Linked DNA regions of Homo sapiens. The protein of the gene in region 2 purifies or fractionates together with the protein of the main gene of each other region. This does not show direct contact. Each region holds a gene or a part of one and is shown on either strand. Other genes may lie near its edges.

The links.
Region 1: the proteins of PSMG3 (region 2) and PSMA5 purify together in Homo sapiens (co-immunoprecipitation; 4 studies listed by BioGRID and IntAct, with this or other methods). This does not show direct contact.
Region 3: the proteins of PSMG3 (region 2) and PSMG2 purify together in Homo sapiens (affinity purification with mass spectrometry; 6 studies listed by BioGRID and IntAct, with this or other methods). This does not show direct contact.

What each region holds. Positions count from the first base shown.
Region 1 is NC_000001.11:109,409,449-109,416,448, forward strand, and holds part of PSMA5 (proteasome subunit alpha type-5), read right to left. Parts: intron 5,916-7,000; coding exon 5,789-5,915; intron 3,688-5,788; coding exon 3,620-3,687; intron 2,737-3,619; coding exon 2,629-2,736; intron 2,488-2,628; coding exon 2,429-2,487; intron 1,666-2,428; coding exon 1,563-1,665; intron 567-1,562; coding exon 480-566; intron 1-479. UniProt on the Homo sapiens protein: Component of the 20S core proteasome complex involved in the proteolytic degradation of most intracellular proteins. This complex plays numerous essential roles within the cell by associating with different regulatory particles.
Region 2 is NC_000007.14:1,566,750-1,574,942, forward strand, and holds PSMG3 (proteasome assembly chaperone 3), read right to left. Parts: upstream 3,284-8,193; 5' UTR 2,591-3,283; coding exon 2,375-2,590; intron 1,102-2,374; coding exon 949-1,101; 3' UTR 583-948; downstream 1-582. UniProt on the Homo sapiens protein: Chaperone protein which promotes assembly of the 20S proteasome. May cooperate with PSMG1-PSMG2 heterodimers to orchestrate the correct assembly of proteasomes.
Region 3 is NC_000018.10:12,698,227-12,706,041, reverse strand, and holds the start of PSMG2 (proteasome assembly chaperone 2), read right to left. Parts: upstream 3,001-7,815; 5' UTR 2,935-3,000; coding exon 2,878-2,934; intron 1-2,877. Other genes in the region: CEP76 (centrosomal protein of 76 kDa), read left to right, coding at 3,494-3,556, 4,929-5,084, 6,137-6,212, 6,839-7,063. UniProt on the Homo sapiens protein: Chaperone protein which promotes assembly of the 20S proteasome as part of a heterodimer with PSMG1.

The DNA of each region.
Region 1 (7,000 bases), on a different chromosome or scaffold from region 2:
GCCAGGCCTCATTCTTTAACTCACTGAATTCTGGCTTCTGCCAGCACCACTTTACTGAAGCTGCTTATTATTCAAAGGCTGTTAATAATTTCTTAGGAACTAAACATACAAAAATGTCATTTCCATGATCTATGTAGTCTTCAGCAATGCCAGCTATGATATCTGAATAAAAAACAATAAAACAGCCAGGTGCAGTGGCTCTCACCTATAGTCCCAGGTACTCAGTAGGCTGAGGCAGGAGAATTGCCTGAGGCCAGGAGTTTAAGACCAGTCTGGGCAACACAGCAAGACCCCATCTCTAAAAAAATTAAAAAACATTAACCAGGCATGGTGTGTGCACCTGTAGTCCCAGCTACTCGAGAGGCTGGGGTGGGAGGACTACTTGAACTCATGAGTTCAAGACCAGTCTAGGCAATATAGCCAGACCTCATCTCTTAAAAAAAAAACCGAAAAAAATCCAACAATAAAACAGAAAGTACCTCAATGTTTGTTGCATTCAGCTTCTCCTCCATTACTTGTTTGAGGATGATGAGTGAAGACTTGATGGCTTCTTTCAAAGTCATAGACTTGAAACAAAGAAGGCAAGAAGATGCCTATTAATTATGCACAATCCGTCCTTCCTTCAAAGATTTTCCCTTTATCTCACTGAAAAAAGTATTTAGCAAGTATGTCAAACATCTTACTTAGTATGGTGCATTACAAGTATCTCCAGAACTCAAGTAAATGGCAAATAAGTAGAATACATTTTTTCAGGAAAAAAAACCCCCAAACCTTATTGTGAGCCACAATAAAGTCACCAACCAAAGTAATCTTTGAAGAAGGGGAAAGGGATAGACTAGTCTTGTGTACATTTGAATTCCTCTTTTAATTTAGAAGATAATATTATTGGTAATATCCAATGAACAATAATGCCCAAATGATCTAAGAGGTAGCCCAATGGTTTAGAAAATTCAAATTTACCCTGTTTTGTACCTAATTTCTTCCACATGTAAAAGCAATACCATTAGGAGCTAATGTGAGCAGGCATCCCTGTATGAACCACCTGAATAAGTAGAGCAGCCTTCAATCACACCAATGAGTTACCCAAAACCAAATCTTCCCATCTCACAAAGAAAATACCAAATGCCCACTTGCTTCAAGAGCCAATTGTAAAGTGCTAAGTAAAGCTGTGAATATAGAGGATAAACATATTGTGGTACATCCATACCATGGTATATTACTCAGCCATCAAACGGAAATACTGGAACAACATGAATGGATCTCAAAAACAGTGTGTTAAACAAAACAGATACAAACTGACTAACTGTTTAATTCCATTTATAACAAAGCACAACAGACAAAACTAATGGAGAGTGGTAAACATGGTGGTAAACATGGTTGCAAGGGAGGGAAAGAGATTGACTGGAATGTGGATGAGCATTTTTCTGGTGGTGATGAAAGTGTTATTTATCTTGTTTTGCAATTGTCAAAACAGAACTGAACTCTTAAGGTTTGCACATTTTATTATATGTAAATTATACCATGATAAAAAAATAGTAAGAGTTGTGAGAATACTTAATTACCTTGTGGTAAACTTCTTGCAAGGAGCTCTGGGCACCCTCTGAAGCAGAGCCAATTGCTCGAGCATCACACTGTACAAAGGTCCCAGATGGGTCCATATGAAACCTGCAAAACCCCCAAAATGAGGACTAAAATGCTCAGGAGTGGTGGCACTTTATGTAACAAACGTCTCACTAAAACAAAGTATAAATGCTTGGCCCTGCAGCCAGGAAACACCACTGAAATATTGAGGCACAGATCTAAAAGATGTTCTATGTCTGGAGAAACCAGACATTTTAAAAACTGTTTAAGAAAATTAGTACCTTCCTTAGGGATTTAGAAGTATAGTATGTATAAATATGGTACTTGTTTATGCCTATCTTAGAAATATTTGAGGATGAGGATCAGATCAACATTCCAGAGCAAAGTTCTAAAACATACCCTGACTATAGTAACAAGTTACTTCTAATTCCTTCCAGAATTAGCACTGGTTCCAATAGGGGAATTCTTCATGGAATCCCCAAATTTGTGCAAACGGTATAGAATCACTAAACTTTAGTATTAGAAGCCATATATATGTATATACATACACACACACACACTCTACAATAGCCCTTTTTACAATAATCTTTTTTTAATGTATTTTTTAAAGAGATGGGGTCTGGCTCTGTTATCCAGGCTGGAGTGCAGTGGCATGATCATAGCTCACTACAGCCTGGATAACAACTCCCAGGCTCAAGAGATCCTCCTGCCTTAGCCTTCAAGTAGCTGGGACTACAGGTGTGTGCTAATACCTGGCTAACAGTCTACAATAATCTTCTCAGTCTCCACCCCAAATTAAAATAATTCCCTGCAAAAGCATGGGGGAAAATTACAAAATGGTACTTACAGCTGGGGTCCTTTCTCATCAACTCCTCCAAATAATAATGCTACTCCAAAGGGACGAGACTAGAACCAAAAAATAAGAGATATTAAGATAAATGGCTATAAAGTAAGGAGGTGAGAGGGGCTGGGAATGTTATGTTCACAGGACAAATGTCCTAAGTCCCATAGAACAATAAGAAAACTCGACAGAAGTATCACACTCACCATGGCACCTGGATCTGCATCTTCTTCTCCAAACTGCAAAGCCAGATTGGACACAGCTTGGGTCACACTCTCCACTGTCATTGTCTCATTGTAGGTGAACCAGTGGTTCTAGAAGAAGAGCAAAGCATGGTACAACCTTCTAATAAGGACATTAAAGCAGCCCACCATCTCACTACGCACATCCCTTTAAACTGGGATTGAAAACTGAAGGCTCAAATGTGGTTTTCTTAATTAACATTAACCCTGAGTACTTGGGAGTACATGAGAGGAAGAGAAATAGCTCTGGAAATAAACATATCACAAGGACTCTACGCAACGACGGACAAGAGAATTACTGCCTTGAAAAAGAGGGTTATGCCTCAAAGCACCAAGTTTACTCTTTCAAAAACTAAAAGTGCCTCTTTCCCTCAAAGACTCTAGCTTATTCTGTTGATGTTCAAATGACTTATTCTTACATAAGTACAGACAGCAAACTTGCAAATAAGTACAAAAAATTTTACCATGTGATGTATTTTTCTTACTAGCCTATCTTCAAGCAGCAGCTACAAAGTTTAAAAAAAAAAAAAACAGTATCCCTGACCAGTATTTGTCAGTTGGTACAAGTTATTACTCACCAAAGGCGGGCTGTTATTTACAAGCCTGGCAGCAAAGGCAGCTGAGGGGAGAATATCCTTTAACTACGTCCACCTCCTGCCATGATGCTCCCACACAAAGTCAATTAGGAAACAATGCATGCTTTATATATAGGCAAAGCCAAAAAAAAAAGGAAGACACTGTCAGCACTACTGACCAGAGCCTCTTTAAAACTGCAATGATTGGACAGCTAAACTCCAAGCCCCAGGAAGTTCTAACTGGGAATTCTACCCAAAATTACTCCCAAGAGCCACATCTAATATTGACACAGGTACCTGCAGTATAGCCCAGGCAGCTAGATAATCACTAAACAAGGAACTCAAGCATCCTGGTAAAAAGGAGATAATGCCAATTTTACCTGTGTCTCCACTCTGGCTTTATCAATTAAAGTCTTAGCATCAGCAATTAGCCCACTCATGGCACAACCTGCAATGTAAAAGCGACAGTGACCCAGTGGCCAAATCCTTGTAAAACTCTTTCATCCACTCAGGAAATCCTGAAATTCTGGATTGGAACCACGGCAGCCATTCAGCTATCCCATGGCATTTTATACCCAAAAGATTAGATAGGAAATGATCTGCACTGAACCCAAGTATTAATGATATTAGAAACAAAAAACCATCCACAATGACACAGAAGTCCAGACGATAAAAATAAGCCCAGAGAAAAGCAGCTAACCAAACATGAATTTCCACATATTACATCCCTAAGCATCCCTTTAGCACTCTTTGTAGACGATGATACATTTTCAAACGAAGCAAATACTAATGCCCCAACCTGGGAAACAAGGAAAAGAAAATCACCTCACTATGGACTACAGTGGAGGACTCTCGAATAAATCAAAAGCCTTTTGCCTCTCTGTCCCAAACACAAAGCAACTAGTTATATCAGAGAGAGTTTGCCTGATGGCCCAAGCTGTCACGATTATGGCTATAACTGTTATTGTACATGCCATGGCTCAAATCTAAATCTCCAGCCTAAGTTTCTCTCCCAAGTTTCAGACATATAAAGCCAAATAACTTCCTTAATATATCTACTTGGACATATCACACACTCATTTCCCTTCCAGACCCCGTCTTCTTCCTTGGCCCTCACAATCAATCAGATCACAAGTTCTGTCAATTTCTATCTTCCTCTCCATTCTCTGGCTACTGTGTTGGTTAAAACCTTCACCATCTCTTTGTTTGGACTATTACAAATTTTTCAACTGGCCTCCGTGCCTCCAGTTTCAGCCCTCTTTAGTCTATCTTTAATATCATTATCAGAATGGCCTTTCTAAAATTATAATGGGATCCTATTACCTCATTGCTTAAAACCTTTCCCATCCTTGCAAAAGGATTACATTGAAGCCCTTCAGTGTGGTAAAAAAGGAATTCCGCTCTCTGACCGACTCTGCTGCTGCAGTTCATGGCCCAGGCCTACAAAACTGCTTGTGACATGGTATTTTATATTTTACACCACGATGGCTTCAGTCATTTCTATTCCCCCTGACTAGAATGCTCTCCCTTGCTATACCCAGACACTTGTTTGCCTTGTGTACACTTCCTTATCTTTCAGAATTAAACTCAGCTCAAAATCACTTTCATGGAATCCTTTTCTGAAAGCCCCACTACCGCTGACTCCAGGCAAAACTAATTATTTCTTCCCTTGTACTCCTACTAAGAACACACTAGTCTTTCTTAATACTTTTGTCACTTAATTGCATTGACTTACTTACATGTCCACCACCACAATTAGACTGTATGCTCCTGTAAAACAAGGACTATGTCTTATTCCTTTCTATATCCTGGTATCTAGCATAAGGTCTGGCACATTGTAGGCTCTCAATTTGTTGAACACAGTGACACTGAGCTACCTTCAAAAGACCAAGTGACTTGAGTTAAAGAAGACACAATGTTCCAATCTTAAAAGATAAAATTTCAGTTTCTATATCTATGAAAGACATAATATCAAGCTCCCAGAGTCACCATGGCATTTGGTTCTGATGCCTTCAAGCAATTAATTATTTTGCCAATGCTTCATTAATTAGATGACTAGACAGGTTAAGAAAATTTGGATAGCCAAATAAAATGCCATTCTATAAATAAGTAGAATTACTCACCCTGTAATACTATTATACAATGATGTCAGAAGCCAAGGCAGGGGAATTAAAGACCAAAAAAGTGGGCAGAGGCAACAAGGAATACAAAGATAATCTGAAAACAAAGGAGGAAGACTGATCTAGGCAAGTCTATATTATTCTTATAACTTGTAGTCACTTCAAAGATCTCAACCTTTGCATATTTCAACAACCATCACATTTACCAAGTCTAAATTTGAGGGGAAAGGAACTTATGGGAGTAGGTTAAACATAAATGAGTCCTGCAACAGCCTCCTACTCCTACATTTACGCATTCTGGCCTACTGCCTGGAAAATAATAGCTAACAAGGGGATAACGTGTTCATTTCATAAACCTTCCTTGGAACATCATAGAGGACTAATTAACCCAGACCAGATCCTACAGAACAGCTTTCCTCCACTCCTTACCTATGTGAGCATCAATCTCTACAATTTTCTCAATGCTGCTGGGCTCCATCAGTGGGGAAGTAATTCTCTTCTCCACAGCTAGGCACACACCCTCTGATGTCTGGATCCCAATGGCTGTAGAACCAAGCTAAAGAGAAACATGTTATGATTACCATATATAGGTCAAATAACTGTCTTACATACTCACCAGATAGCTCTCTGTAAATCTTCACATGATAGAAACTTCAACTGGCCACATCTTATAGGCAGAGAGAAGGAGCACCCTAACATACTGTAAGTAATTAATATACTATTCCTGTCAATAGCAAGAACATTGATTTACAGAATTTTGTGATTCTAAAAAGTTCTTTTTTCTCCCTTAAATTTTTTTAAAATTTTTAATGTTTTCTTTATAATTTACCCATGTAATTCCCAGAACCCCAAAAGAGTAAGTTCAACAAAGTCTTTCAAACACTGGAAAAATCCACTCTCTAATGCCAATATTTGGAGGACGGAGGATTCAAAAGTTCTAAACATAGTGGGCAAGAAAGTAATAAAACTCTTAATGTCTTCTCTGGACCTGGCCTCTTTTCACCTCTGCCATCTACCTTGGTCTGTCCCAAGAGGTGATGATATTCCCCAACCTACCTGACCTCCAAAAAAGTAATAAAGGAAGGTAGGGAGGGACGAAAAGAACCACCACCATCATCACCACCAACAACGTAAAACTATTAATTATTTAAGGTCGCTAGAAGTCCACAATATACCTGGAATTCATCTCTATCTCTACGTAACTCCCAGTCATCTACTCCTCTATGCCCATTTCCTGCAAAATGAGGATGACAATAATAATAAGAAGGGTAAACACATTATATATTATAAAATGCTTAAAATGGTGCCTGCCAAATATGAACAAATGTTATTCATATTCCATGCCTAGATACTTCAATAGCCTCTCTCATCTTTAATCTCTCTCAATGTATCTCTAATGTTATAACCTGACTGATCTAATAAAATGCTATTATCATTATATTTCTTCTCTCAAGAATTAACATCACCCTATACTGCCTATAATATATCCAAATAAACTTCCAGAGCCTTCATATCCTGATGCCACTTTTCCCTTCCAACTTCACTACTCGTTATTCTCCAACAAAATCCCTCAGGTATAGCCCAGCCCACTGGCTCAAGCCACGTTATCTCCTACCCTTGCACCCCTCTGCTCATGCTGTC
Region 2 (8,193 bases):
CCCTCGCAGTGGCTGGAGGGAGAGCCAGGCGGGGCCCAGGCTGCCACTTATCAGGGCTGTAAATGCCACCCTGAGGCCCACGCCTGCCAACACTGCTCCCCACAAGACTAAGTCCTGCAGCCTCAGCCCAGAAGGACCCGCGCCTACCCCCACACGGAGGTCATGTTCAGCCACACCCCAGTGAACCCTGGCGACCCACCCCACAGTGCCCTGCCCTCCCGTGCTCCTCTCTCCTGACCTCTGTGCACGCTGCTCCCTTGACAGAAGCGTCCCCCCTCCCTTGCTATGCAGGATTCAGAGGACAGCGTCTGTCCCCAGCTGCAGCACGGTAACGGGCACACACATTAAGATAGTAAGAGATGTCCGCTGACGGCCACCAGCTTCCCAGCAGGCTCAGAGAAGTTACTGGAGTTGGAGCTGGGTGACAGCGTGCACAGGCCCAAGCATGGGATCCACCCAGTTCCTGGGAACTACGTCCCTCTGCGTTTCTGCCCAACAAGCTTCCCTTCATGAAGCCCATGAAACTGAACTCATGCTGTGCGGCTGCAATGTCTCGCTACTGTTAAGGAGGACAGTGAAGTATTTTGGGATACACATTCGCTTTTAATAAAAAAGAAATTTCCTCCTACAATTGATCCTGCACACGGGGGGGCCATGAGCCACGCCTGCTGACTCATTCCTCCAATTCTCAAACACAAGCAACGATTCAGGTCCTGGTGAGAACCATTCACGACTCCTCCGGGACCTGTTCCACCCTCCCCGTCATGCACAGATGATCTTAGTAACCAGAGTAAGAGTCTGCCTGAGACACGAGTCTTTTTTCCTGGCTCCAAGGGCTAGTGCCAAAGTTCCTCCCTCCACCGGGGAGGGAGGTGAGACTTGAGTCCCTGAGTGGGTGTCTGGGTGTTCACGTGTCCTGCTGAGCAGCGCGGGGCGGCTGCCTCCAGGTCACCACACCTGGCACACCCGGATCACCTCCCTCAGCGCCTTCAGCCCCTCCATGCTTTTGTCCTTCACGGCCACGGCGAGGAGGACTGCTCTGTTTCCAGCTTCTTGAGACACAAACGCTACCAGGTTCTTTGCAAAGACATGGATGAGAGGCTGGTAAAGGAAGGAGAAGAAACCATTTTAACTGCAAGAAACCTGGTTTTTTCCTCAATGCTTTCATGAAGTATCCCTTAGGAACCCAGGCAGGCTTCCCACACCACCATTAACCGCCACATAAGTCCATGCAACTGTGACTCAGAGTTCTGGCAGCACTCAGAACACTCCAGTCACGGGCACACTGCTAAAGACCATCACTCCATTCATTTTCCCAGCGCCTTCCGCAGCCCCGCCTCTTCTGGCTCTCTCTCATCTAAAAGAACCCAGGAAAGAGAAGCCTGCAGAAGCGAGTGCTGTCGAATCTCACGTGTGATCTCCACAGAGCACAGCACAGCCAGCCGCCTGCTCACGTAATGTACCATGGCAGGGGAGGCGGCTCGAATGACAAAACTGCTGCTTCTGCTTGTCTGCTGGATAAAATGCCTGCGGGCTGGACAAAGCATCCACTGAGGGCAAGCAGGGCGCCTTGAGACCCACAAATGCCCGGAAAATGCTATCGCTGTAGGGGTATTTGTCCGCCAGATGCCCCATGTCCTTACTGACAAATCACAGCCACTGGAGAGGTTTATGCTCCTCCCTGGGGGTCCCTTCCTGACCACTTTATTATTATTATTATTATTATTATTATTAAAGACAGAGTCTTGCTCTCTCACCCAGGCTGGAGCGCAGTGGCACAATCATGGCTCACTGCAGCCTCAACCTCCAGGGCTCAAGCCATCCTCCCACCTCAGCCTCCCAAGTAGCTGGGAGCACAGGCACACACCACTAGGCCCAGCTAATTTTTTGTTTCCTTTTCTTTTCCTTTTTTTTTTAAGACCAAGTCTCTATCTGTTACCCAGGCTGGAGTGCTGTGGCACGATCTTAGCTCACTGCAACCTCCGCCTCTCGGGTTCAAGCGATTCTTCTGCCTCAGCCTCCTGAGTAGCTGAGATTACAGGCATGTGCCACCACACCCAGCTAATTTTTATATTTTTCGTAGAAATGGGGTTTCCCCATGTTGGCCAGGCTGGTCTGGAACTTCTGACCTTAAGTGATCTGCCCGCCTCAGCCTCCCAAAGTGCTGGGATTACAGGTGTGAGCCACTGCACCCAGCCTCTCTCTATATATATATTTTGTGTAGGCACTTGTTTTTTTGTAGTGACTTGTGTGTGTGTTGTTGTGTTGCCCAGGCTGGTTTCAAACTCCTGGCCTCAAGCGATCTGCCCGCCTAGGCCTCTGAAAGTGCTAGGGTTACAGGCGTGAGCCACAGTTCCCGGCCAATCCACTTTACCTCATCCTGCCCCAGAAGGACTTTTGTGGTGAGCACAGGCTTGCTGACGTCACTGGCCACGCTGCTGGGCTCCAGGGAGACCAGGGTGCCCATCTTCCCAAACTGGGTCACCACCACCAGGATGTGACTGCTGAAGGCCGTACACACCACCTGGGTGGGGACCCCGCACACCACCTCCGTCTTCTGCTTCGATATCACCAACGGCGTGTCTTCCATGGCGGGGCTCTGCAGTGGCAGCTTTAATTTAGGTTAAAAAGAAAGGGGAAAAAAAGGAGTCAATCAAACAGTACAGCCTTGGGGCTCCCAAAAAAGTAGCACGGGGCATTGAAACGGAAACGCAAGGAGGCCCATTCAAAAGAAGGGGCCAGGCGCGGTGGCTCATGCCTGTCATCCCGGCACTTTGGGAGGCCGAGACAGGACGATCGTTGAGGCCAGGAATTCGAGACCAGCCTGGCCAACATAGCGAGACCCCCATCTCTACCAAAAAAAAAAAAAAAAAAAACCAGCAGGGCGCGCCTGTGGTCCCAGTTACTCAGGAGGCTGAGGCGGGAAGATCGCTTCAGCCCGGGAGGTCGAGGCTGCGGTGAGCCGTGATCACACCATTGCATTACAACCCGGGCGGTAGAGCGAGACCCTGTCCGTAAAAAAATAAAACAGAAGCAGGAGCGGGGCCGCCCATAGAGACCGCGCCTGGGGCTTTCTGGGTTAGGGGATCGACTTGCACGTTCACACTGCCAGGCCGGGCAGTGGCTTCCCGCCCCTCGGCCTCGCCGCCGCCCCGGCCCTGCAGCCGCGGCCCGGGACCCCCACGACACGCGGTGCCGAGGCCGGCCGGGCTACTGGGGACGCAGCCGCCCGGGGAAGCCCGCGGGTACCCGCGCTCACCAAGCCGGCGCCGCGCCCGGAAGTGGCTCTGCGTGCGCCACGCGGGCCCGCCCCGTCCGCGGGTTCCGTCCACCTTCCGGAAGTCAGGGCCGCGGCGCTTCTGGTCCCGGAGACTTGGGGCTCCCGGGCTTCTGAGCGGCTCGGGTTCCGCGCTGCCGGCAGGGCTTGGGGGCGCCTTAGAGCCGAACCCCGTTTTTTCAGGAAAGGGCGCTGCGACCACCCCCGTCCCGGGCCTCAGCCCCTCTGCTGCAGACCCTCGGGATCGTCGCTGGTAGGAGCTCTGTCCCCCGTGTCTGTGTCCAGGACCCCCGAAGCGCCGCGCCTAGGAACCCCCTAGCGCTGGGAGCCCGGCCCTGCTCGACCACGGGCTTTGGGCTGGAGGCGTCATCGTCGCCACAGCGAACGCTTATTTGGCACCGAGTGTCCGCCAGGCATCGCTCTAAGCGCTTTATACCCATAACTCACTTCATCTCAGCCACCCGGTTCCGTAGAAGCGTTTCATCCGCGTTTTACAGACGTGTGCAGGTGCAGAGAGCTCGGCCAGGCTCAGGCGGCGGGCGGGCTGGGGTGGGCTCCGACCGTCCCTCGGGCGCTCCGTGACACGAAGCCCCGGCCAAGGCCAAGAAGGGGGCCAGCCCCACCCTGAAGCGGGATGAGTTCTGGTTCCTCCCAGGGACCCCCTCACTCCCTACTGCTCACTCTCAGTTTCTCCAAGCTGGAAGGTTTTTTGTTTTGTTTTGTTTGAGACGGAGTCTTGCTGTGTCACCCAGGCTGGAGTGCAGTGGCGCGATCTCGGCTCACTGCAGCCTCCGCCTCCCTGGTTCAAGCAATTCTCCTGCCTCAGCCTCCTGTGTAGCTGGGATTACAGGCGTGCGCCACCAGGCCCGGCTAACTTTTTAAATTTTTAGTAGAGATGGGGTTTCACCATGTCGGTCAGGCTGGTCTTGAACTCCTGACCTCAGGTGATCTGCCTTCCTCGGCCTCCCAAAGTGCTGGGATTACAGGCGTGAGCCACCGCGCCCCGCTGCTGGAAGTTTTATTGGTAGGGTCGGACATCTTGGTAGCAGAGGCTGAAAGTGATTGGAGCCTCCAGAGCCTTCCTCGGGGTGGGGCGTTTAACATCCCTTCAGAACCCCACCCTCGGAGGCCTTACTGTCGTTTCCTGACAACCATGTCAAGGCCGTATTTTCTGTCTATATTACCAGAAAGGGGTCCCGATCCAGACCCCAAGAGAGAATTGAGGGCGAGTCCACAAAGTGAAAGCAAGTTTATTAGAAAAGTAAAGGAATTGAGGCAGGAAAACAGGGTCTGGAGGCAGGGAACACTTCAGCTATGACAGGAAATACCCTCTCCATAGGGTGTACACTGAGTAAATGATTTTGTAACTTTATTTCATCCTCTTTATTTACATAGGGCGTACACCAAGTAACCAGTAGAAACCCCTAGAGGGTATTTAAACCTCACAAGTTCTGTAATGGGGCCCTGAGCCTCTATGCTTTGGCCGCCCCCACACCATGGAATGTACTTTCATTTTCAAAAAATTTCTGCTTTTGTTGCTTCATTCTTTTTTTGCTTTGTGCATTTTTTTTTTTTTGAGACAGAGTCTCTGTTGTCCATGCTGGAGTGCAGTGGCGTGATCCTCACTGCAACCTCTGCCTCCCGGGTTCAAGCAATTCTCCTGCCTCAGCCTCCTGAGTAGCTGAGATTACAGACGTGCGTCACCATGCCCGGCTAACTTTTGTGTTTTTAGTAGAGACGAGGTTTCGCCATGTTGGCCAGGCTGGTCTTGAACTCCTGACCTCAGGTGATCTGCCCGCCTCGGCCTCCCAAAGTGCTGGGATTATAGGTGTGAGCCACCGCGCCCGGTGGCTTTGTGCATTTTGTCCAATTCTTTGTTCAAGATGCCAAGAACCTGGACACCCTCCACCAGTAACAGAATAAAGAATGGCTACTCCATAGGCAGAGCAGCATGGGCTGCTGGTTGCCCATTTTTGTGGTTATTTCTTGATGATATGCTAAACAAGGGGTGGATTATTCGTGCCTTACCTTTTTAAACCCTTTAGGGTAACGTCCTGGCATTGCTATGGCATTTGTAAACTTACGGCGCTGGTGGGAGTGTAGCAGCTGGGACGACCAGAGGTCACACTCATCGCCATGTTGGTTTGGTGGGTTTTGGTCAGCTTCTTTACTGCAAACTGTTTTATCAGTAAGGTCTTTATGACCTGTAGCTTGTGCCGACCTCTTATCTCATCCTGTGACATAGAATGCCTTAACTGTCTGGGAATGCAGCCCAGCAGATCTCAGCCTCATTTTACCCAGCCCCTATTCAAGATGAAGTTGCTCTGGTTCAAACACCTCTGACATTTACACCACTGAAGCTCCAAGGAAGATCTTGACTCCCTCTTCTCACCATTTGATGACTTCGTATCCAATCCAAGTCAAGTCAAATGAAGCATGCTCCTTCCAATGATGATTTCTGGAGGCCTAAAATAAAAAGCATGCATACAGAAAATGATCAAAATAGACATAAATCAAGGGGAAATTCATTTTTGAGCATTCTTGCAGCCAGTACACAAAAGGAGAGATGATGAGTTTCATGGTTCTAATACTCAAAAAACAGGAAGCATATCAACTTCCCAGGAAAGTCTAAGTTTCTGTCGGCTCTAAATTTAAACACACATCCACCCACACATACCCCACAAGCAAATTGCCAGTGGATTGCTTTGCCATCTGAAATCTTCAAAAGGTTCACTCGCTTTTATTCACCTGTTTGTGTATTCTCCCTCTCTGTAGGCAAATAGATACAAGAAATCTGATCCTGTCCTCTCAAAGAAAACCCTCTGAAATAAACTTATCACCTTTAAAAAAGGGATGTTGAAGAACAAGATGGATTTTTGTTGTTGTTGTCGTTTTTTGAGATGGAGTCTCGCTCTTGTCGTCCAGGCCGGAATGCGGTGGTGCGATCTCGGCTCACTGCAACCTCCGCCTCCCAGGTTTAAGCGATTCCCCTACCTCAGCCTCATGAGTAGCTAGGATTATAGGCACCTGCCACCACGCCCGGCTAATTTTTGTATTTTTAGTAGAGACTGGGTTTCGCCATGTTGGCCAGGCTGGTCTCAATCTCCTGACCTCAGGTGATCTGCCCGCCTCGGCCTCCCAAAGTGCTGGGATTACAGACGTGAGCACCCAGCCTGGATGTTGTTTTTGATGACACTGCTAAGCACTTATGTGAGGGATTGTTTGGGTGGTTTGGGTCTAGATCTAAGATAAAGACAGTAGGAAAGAAATGAGAGGTGGAAGGTTGTCCTAGGCTGAGGTGGTGGTCCAGGGACTTTCTGGCAGCCTGGATGGATGCCTGGGCAGAATTTATATATCTAGAAGAATGGAAGAGGACCTCATTGCATGCCATTGACTGTTCTCCAGTACCCAAGGGTAAAGGAACTGGAAAGAAAGACTCACTCAAGTGCATTCACATAAAATGGGAATCTAATAGTAATGGTGCCAATTGTGGGGCAAAGAGTTCAAGGAGTTATTTTGAAAAATGAAAAAAAAAGCAAAGTATCTTAAATTTGTCTTATATTCAATAAATTGTCGGTGATAATGCTATGGTGTGTGCATTTGTAGAACCAACAAAGACTTAGTCAAGTGCCGATTTGGTAGGATTGTAATTTTTCCGACAAATTGTATGATCGCTACACACGTTATCCTTCCCATTGTGTGTGATTTTCCCAGCTCCAGGATGAAGAGGATTGGTTTTACAAAAATGGGCAAGGACACCATCAATTTCCCCACAAGTCTCTCTCTCTCTCTTTTTTTTTTTTTTTTTTTTAGACAGAATTTCACTGTGTCGCTAGGCTGGAGTGCAGTGGCAAGATCTTGGCTCACTGCAATCTCCACCCTCCAGGTTCAAGCGATTCTCCTGCCTCAGCCTCCTGAGTAGCTGGGATTACAGGCACCCACCACCACGCCTGGCTAATTTTTGCATTTTTAGTAGCGACGAGGTTTCACCATGTTGGCCAGGCTGGTCTTGATCTCTTGACCTTGCGACCCGCCCGCCTTGGCCTCCCAAACTGCTGGGATTACAGGCGTGAGCCACCGCACCTGGCCACGTCTCTCTTCATCGTTTAATAGTCTCACCCTTTCTTGTTGAAGGACCATCCGGCCATTAGCCATGGGCGTGGCCTCACTCTCAGCCGCCTGACTGTGTAGCTTTGCCAGGGCCTCCCACACTGACCCACTGCTTTGGTCTCCATCTGAGCATCCCTGGCATCCCATTTGTGGGCTTCCTGAAACCGTTTTTTTTTTTTTTTTTTTTTTTTGAGATGGAGTTTTGCTCTTGTTGCCCAAGCTGGAGTGTAATGGTGCAATCTCGGCTCATTACAACCTCCGCCTCCCAGGTTCAAACAATTCTCCTGCCTCAGCCTCCCAAGTAGCTGGAATTACAGGCATGCACCACCACGCCTGGCTAATTTTGTGTTTTTAGTAGAGATGGAGTCTCTCTATGTTGGTCAGGCTGGTCACGAACTCCTGACAGGTGATCCGCCCACCTTGGCCTCCCAAAGTGTTGGGATTACAGGCGTGAGGCACTGTGCCTGGCCTAGATTCCTGAAACCTTATGTCTCTTGGAAGATAGACGGTTTGGCTTTGCAGCTGATGTGCTTTGTATTTCCACAGCCTCACGACACGCTCTCCCATCCTCTCAACAGGAAAGATTCTGAAGCTTGGCGGAGAGGGGTGTGTGAGTGGACACCAGTGAAGTAACGGTTTTTGTGTTACGATGATTTCTGTTTTCCTCTGCTGCCCTGTAATGGCAGGAACTCGGATAGTCTGGTCTTCAGACCAGGAGGACTCCCAGGTATGGCAAATCTTAGATTAGGTAAAACTTTAGGCATCAGAATCAACCTCCTTGGCTGTTAATTTTGAGCAACTTGCCT
Region 3 (7,815 bases), on a different chromosome or scaffold from region 2:
AATGCCTACTATATGTCAATTGTTGCTCTAGGCACTGGGAATGCAGTAAAATAAACCAACAAAAGTTCATGCCCTCATGGAACTTCCATTCCAGTGAGAGTGGTTTACCTGTAATAAACAAAACAAACACTAAAATATACAGTGGTAATTGCTACGGAGAAAAATAAAGTGAGTGTGAGGATGTGTGTACATGGTTGATTGCAATTTTAAGTAGAGTGTTCGAGGAAAGACTCACCCTAGGTGACAAATGACTAGAGACCTGAAAAAGGTAAAGGAGACAGCCGTACAGAGATCTGGGAAAGAACATTCCAGGCAGTGGGAAAGCAAGTGTAAAGGCTTCGAGGTATGAACAGAAGCACTCTTGGGTCTGCTTACCATTTGCTTTATTAGTGCCTCTTTACCCATTCCGAAAGGTTGAAGTGATCTTTTCACACTAAACACACACACACACACACACACACACACTCTCTCTCTCTCTCTCTCTCTCTCTCTCTCTTTTTCCCATGACTTAAAATAATGAAGCTGCCAAATCCCTACCTACATCCCAGAACACGTAGGAGCTCCACAACCTAATGGACGTCTCCACATGGTTAGGTCACAGGAAACTCACATTCCACATGTCCAAAACTATAAACTTTTGCCCAAATTTTTCCCCATATTTTGTATTTTAGAAAAGGGCGCCGGGCATGGTGTCTCATGCCTGTAATCCCAGCACTTTGGGAGGCCGAGGCAGGTGGATCACCTGAGGTTAGGAGTTTGAGACCAGCCTGGCCTACATGGTGAAACCCTGTCTCTACCAAAAATACAAAATTAGCTGGGCGTGGTGGTGCATGCCTATAATCCCAGCTACTCGGGAGGCAGAGGCAGGAGAATCACTTGAACCCAGGAGGCAGAGGTTGCAGTGAGCCAAGATCGTGCCATTGCACTCCAGACTGGGCAAAAAAGAGCAAAACTCCATCTCAAAAAAAAAAAAAAGTTCAATATTATTCAATCTACCTAAACTTCTTCCCATTCCCTTACCAACTACATCTAATACATGCCTAATTTTTATTGAGGCTATCCCCCAAGTATCCTTTTAATGTAGCTCCTCCTTTGCATTCTTCCAACAACTCCTTTTGTTTTCTGTCCTTCGGGTGTTCCCTCAGCATGTTCTCCCACTTTTCACTGTTGTCACCTACCAATTGCCTAGTTACCTCCTGCAATTCCCTTCTCAACGATTTTGCTACTTGGGTTAAACTCTTCTGTACCATCCTTCTTTTCCTCACAATATTGTATTATTCCCATCAGCACGTAAACATGCTCTAATATCTTTCATTCTAAAAGGCTCTCCCTTGACCCCACATAGCCCTCTAACTGCAACCTCATTTCTTGTTTCTCTATGTAGCAAAAATTCTCCAAGTCGTCCACGAAAACATAAGCAGAAACTTTATCTCTTATTAAAAAAAAGTTTTTTGAGACAGGGTCTCACTCTGTCGCCCAGGCTGGAGTGCAGTGGCACGATTTCAGCTCACTGCAGCCTCTGCTTCCTGGGCTCAAGTGATCCTCCCACCTCAGCTTCCCGAGTAGCTGAGATACAGGTGCAGGAAACCACACCTGGCTAATTTTTATTTATTTTTTTGTAGAGATGAGGTATCACTATGTCGCCCAGGCTGGTCTTGAACTCCTGAGCTCAAGCGATCCTCCTGTACTCGGCCTTCTAAAGTGCTGGGATTACAGGCATGAGCCATCATGCCTGTCTCTGAATTAATGACTGAATATATATTATACAACCCAAATCTTTAACTTGTTTTCTATCATTCATTCAACCCACTCCAATATGGCTTTCCTCTTCACCACTTCACTGGTAACTGTTTGTCCAGGTGACCATCATTAACATGTCGCTAAATCCAAACATACACTTTCTTCACCTTACACATCTCTGGGCTACTTTTGACATGGCCACTCCCTCCTTTTTGAAACACTCTTCTCTGGGGCTGTGTGTTTTATATGTAATGAATAAGGATGACACTTCCAGCTCTCTCCAGCCTTATACCACTCCAAACAGTGCATTTTCCAATGGTGCCTTCTGGGTTCACAGGGCCTACAGCCTATTCTCTCTCAATGTGTCATTCCAAATTCTTGGCAGTCTTCAAGTCCCCCTGCTTACTGACTCTGTTTTAGACATCCATCTTTCTGAAACGCCTACTTTCCCCTACTCCCAGCCCACGGGCCCTCCATCTTTTGCATACTACTTTCTCTATAAAGCCTTTCTTAACAAGCCATCTGTCCCTCCCCTCCCAATTATCTCAGGACCTTTCTATACCCTTTCAAGCTTCTAGCCTAGCATTTATTGCTCTTAGATTACATGTTTCCAACTACAGTGTAAATTCTTTGAGGGCACGCACCTAGTCTTATTCTAATACTCGCACATAACAGACTTTATTAAAACAATGAATGAATATAAAGAGCGATAAAACTGCGCTAACTACCGGCAAGAGTTAATGTTTATTGCCCTATCAGTAGTTCTCCGGTTAACAACGATAATATGCTAGCTTAAGACTAATTCTAAAACTAGTCGTAGAAAGACTTTCTAGGATAAAACTGAAGGATGCCCTGCAAAACATAAGTACAGTGTATCTAGAACGTACGAACACATCACGTTTTACAGGAAACAGAGACTACAAATTGTAGACTTGACTACGTTTGGTTTTACAGCCGACAAAGGTTCTGTTTGGACGGCTGCCTCCGGCTACAACCTCCCTGTTTTTTCCGGCCGAAAACATGAAATAGAAACTAGTGCCCTATTTCTCCCAAGGCACCGCCAAACACCCCGCGTCGGGGTGGCGACACCGCAGGGGCCTCGGGAGGCGGCAGCCCCGAGCGCAAATGGAGACTCACCATTAGGAGGGTGAAGCCGGCAAGGTCGGGGGCCGACTCCCCGCAGGGAACGAACATGGTCGCAGTGGGGTGGCCAGCAGGGACTAACCGCGGCCCTGGCAAGAACGAGGGCAGCAAGAAGGCGGAAGCCCGAGACCCCGGAGCCTCGCGGGGCGCGGGAGGGTCCTTTGAGTCCCTGGGCGCCGGGCCCTTGAGGCCCGTCCAGCTAACTGCCGGTTCAGAGGGCGGAAAGAGGCCGCCGGGTGGCCGCGAAGAGGGGCCAGCAGCGCTTTCGGAGACCCTGGCAAGCAAGGCGATGGGGTGCGCTGAGGTCTCGGGGTGCGGGGCCCGCGGGGAGGTGGAGCGGCGGGCGGAAACGATCAGGCAGCGTGCGGGCCAGCCCCAAGCCCTGTTTGTCCGCCACTGTTTGAAAACAGTTGGCGCCGCCGCCGCCGGGGCCTCATTTCCAGGTCAGCCCCCGGCCTGACGCGGCGTTGCGTCCCCCGGGAGCTGCGCTAGGCGAACGGCTGCGGCGCTTTGTGCTCCAGTCGCTCCTAACGCTCCCTGGCCCGGCCGGGGCCGCGCAGTTAGGGCATCTGAGGCGGGGAGAAGCGGCGGGGAGACGCCGGCTGCCAGCATGTCGCTGCCTCCGGAGAAAGCCTCCGAGCTGAAGCAGCTCATCCACCAGCAGCTGAGCAAGGTGAGAGTCGCGGGTGCTGGGAGAGACCGCCGGGCCGACCCATAACCTTTCCCTCCTGCCCGGCGGCCCCGGGCCGACAGCGGCATCTGCTTGCCGGGACTGTAGCGAGGATTGTGGGGTGCGCAACGCAGAGTAGGCAGAGCTTTGAGTTTGAGGCAGGAGAGCGTCCTCGTCTCCGAGAAAGAAAACGAGCCGAGCAGGTGCTAGCAAGAGTCTGGGGCGATAGAACGAGCGGTCTTGGCGTTTTAGGACGGCCGTGAGAATGAAGCGCTTAGCGAGCGACTTCTGGAAGTCGGATCGAGTGTAAGTTGTATTTGGAGGTTTATATTCTGCTGTAAGATATCAGGTTTTTTTTCTTTCTTGAGACGGAGTCTCTCTGTTGCCCAGGCTGGAGTGCAGTGGCACGATCTCGGCTCACTGCAACCTCCGCCTCCCAGGTTTAAGCGATTCTCCGCCTCAGCCTCCCGAGTAGCTGGGATTACAGGCGCGCGCCACCACGCTCGGCTAATTTTTGTATTTTTAGTAGAGACGGTTTCACCATGTTGGTGTGGCTGGTCCCGAACTCCTGACTTCGTGATCCGGCCGCCTCGGCCTCCTAAAGTGCTGGGATTACAGGCGTGAGCCTCCGCGCCCGGCAGATATCAGGGTTTCTTTACCGCTGAAACATGTGGGTATCAGCGAAGTTGAACCAGGAGCTTCAATCAGCAATTCTCAAATAAGTCATGGAAGAGAAGTTACTAAAGGGTTTGTAATGACGGAATTTGTTAATATTTCGGAGCTCCAGAAGAACCTCCAGTTTCTGCAGCGCTCGCTCGACTGAGTGCAAGATGCTGAAGTGATAAAAGCGACCATTTATGGTGCCCTTGTGTGCCAGGCTTTGTGCTGTCTAGTATCTTTAATCCTCACAACACTATCGTGAGAGGGCACTACACTAGGTTTTTCCATTCTTATCGGTGACGAAACAGATTTATAAAGGGTAAATAAGTTGGCTTGAGGTTACACATCTACTAAGTTGAAAGCTGGTAAGATTCCCTTATCATTAGGCAGATCAAAGTATGAAAGTAATAAGATCATACTTTGATCTGCCTACTCCCAGTCCGTGTTCTTCTGATTATACTATACTCCCTCTCAGAAGATTCCTTTTGGTTGAGTGTTGTTTGTGGAGAAATGGTAACAAAGGTGCCAGATAACCAGTGGAGACTATTTCTAGAATTTGTACTCAAAAGATTCATTCTTTAAAAGCTTACCTTTGTTCCCATTCAATTGTGGTAACAATTGTGCATTTACTGTTAGCTGGAGAACCTTAAAACTTCAGAAGCAGTATTTGACTGCTTTGTGATGTTATAAATTGTAATATGAGTTTTCTACATAGATGGATGTCCATGGTAGAATAAGAGAAATCCTTGCTGAGACTATACGGGAAGAATTGGCACCTGATCAACAGCATTTATCAACAGAAGATTTGATCAAAGCCCTTAGACGTCGAGGAATCATTGACGATGTGATGAAAGAACTTAATTTTGTTACTGTGAGTAATCTTTTAGGGAAATAAATGAGAGTATATATGTATATACTAATGCGTAACACTACTTATAAGGTTCCGATGTGGGGCCTTTCGTTTTAGTAAAACCACTTCAAGGTCATTCTGTTTACTAGTGTCCTTGTTTCAAGTATAGGCTAGCTCTGCCCTTGAATATACTGAATAGTTTTGTGTATCAATGAAATTTGTGTTAGATATCTTATTCCTGTCTCTACAGTGACAGAATTTTCTCTTATTTTCTAGGTCTGTAAATTTGAATATACATACTTTAGTCCAATTAGTTCACCATAACAAAGTTCTTTTTCATTATGATCTGTAACTTTTTTAGATTAAGCGTATTTTTAAAATAAGCACTCTTTTGGGATTATATTCTCTATGATTAACAAATTACAAATTTCTTTAAGAAAATAATTGACTGCATAAGAGTCCTCAAATCTTTTAATACAAATAGGTCAATAATGGGATGATAGTCTCTCAGTGCACAATTAGTAAGTAGGCCTTCATTTGAAAGTGAGGCAATAATGGAAACTGTGACCTCAATACCTGGGTAATATAATGTGAAAATTGGATGGACTTCATAATACAATAGGGAATAAGTATTTTAATACAGCACCTTTTTTTGGTTTTTGAAGTTTATGAACCCGTTTGTTATAAAAATTGACCTAATAACAGCTTCTACTCTGTGATGACACTTTATTAAAATCAGCTCATAGTGGAATTATAAGCCAACTGTTACATAAGGTTTACAGAAAGTTTAACCTTGTTGAAGGTATTAAGGATTTGTTTTTAGCTTTATGTGGATAGTATTACTTGAAGACAGTTTAATTCCTTAGCATTTGATTTTAGGAGTGATCAGTTTACATCATCTTTTATGCAGGCTTTTATTTTCATTATTTTAATTAGGCTAGGAAAATAAGGGGTTCTTTGAAAGGGCCTTACCCTGTTGACTTTAGGTTCAGTGCTTAGTCATGTTTATTGACATTTCCTTAACCTATAATTGTTTTCTAATTTGTTTTGATTTTTTTTTCCTGCCTTTCTAGGACAGTGTTGAGCAAGAACTCCCTTCCTCTCCAAAACAACCTATTTGTTTTGATAGACAATCGACATTAAAAAAAAGTATGTATATTTTAACATTAATTTAGTTGTGGTTAATAGTAAATATTGATGTGGTGTAGTCTTTCGTATTTGATAGAAGACATTTCCATTTTTTCCCCCCAAAATAAAATACTTAAAATTTTATGGTTGGCTAAAACAGATTGTTTTGCATGAAGTATATCAGAAGAGTTAATGTATAGCACGGTAGAAGCAAAAACAGCATCACCAGTTTCTTGTGTTTTAATAATATGTTTTATAAAAACTGTACAGCCTTGCTTTTAAATATTAATATAATTGACAAATACACTTGCTGAATTGATAATTATATGAGTTGGTTTGTGAAGGTGGAGGAATGTTGGATAAGCAGTTAAAAAGCAAAAGTATACTACATATTGGCTCTGATGCCTTTTCCAGCTGGGAGAAAGTAGCCTGGATGTAAACTCAGAAAAGAATATCATATTTTGTGTATCTTCTCCCCAGAGTGCAAATGATTCTGGCATATACAGTAATAAATTTGTTACTCTTTTGCTTTTTTTTTAGTCTTTGGTATTGGGTTTTTATCTGTCAAGTTTTTATTTCCTAATGTCTTGATCACATTCTTTTAAGTTATTTGGCAGTTTCCTCATATATATTGCTACACTTTACAGCTAATATTGATCCAACACGGAGGTATCTTTACCTTCAGGTTTTGGGTGGAAAAGCTTTCTTGGAACATCTGCAAGAACCTGAGCCTTTACCTGGACAAGTTTGTTCAACGTTTACTTTATGTTTACATTATCGAAACCAACGTTTTCGTTCTAAACCTGTTCCATGTGCCTGTGAACCAGATTTTCATGATGGCTTTTTACTTGAAGTACACAGAGAAAGCTTGGGTAAGAAACAGTAATAAATTGTCATTTAATTGAGTAAATCTTTGTTATGTTTTATTGTGAAACAATAATAATGACTTTTTCTGTAAGGAGAGATTTATAATGGAGGAATCTCTATTTTGTTTCCCACTGCTCTTTTCAATTTAAACTACTATCCACCTTCTTGCAATATTCTGTTTGCTATTCATTTTCCCTGGATATTATTTTTTGACTGTTTTCATTGTTGATTCTTTAGTAATACACACTTAAATACCTATTATGTGCATAGTGTTATGCTAGGCAGGTGCTGGGATGATATAGTGGAAAATGAGACATGGTCCTTCTCATTTATAAAATATAACCAGATTGATGATGTTATGTAACTTTTAAAAGTCGAAGTTTAGGCTGAGCACGGTGACTCACAGCTGAAATCCCAACACTTTGGGAGGTCTAGGTGAGAGAATCATTTGAAGCCAGGAGTTCAAGACAAGTCTGGGCAAAGTGAGACATTGTCTCTACAAAAAATAAAAAATAGGCTGGGTGTGGTGGCTCATGCCTGTAATCCCAGCACTTTGGGAGGCCAAGGCAGGTGGGTCACCTGAGGTCAGGAGTTTGAGACCAGCCTAGCCAACATGTCGAAACCCTGTCTCTACTAGAAATACAAAATTTCTAGCCGGGCATGGTGGCAGGCGCGTGTAATGAGCCGAGATCACCCCATTGCACTCCAGCCTGGGCAACAGAGTGAGACTCTGTTTAAATAAATAAATAAATGAATA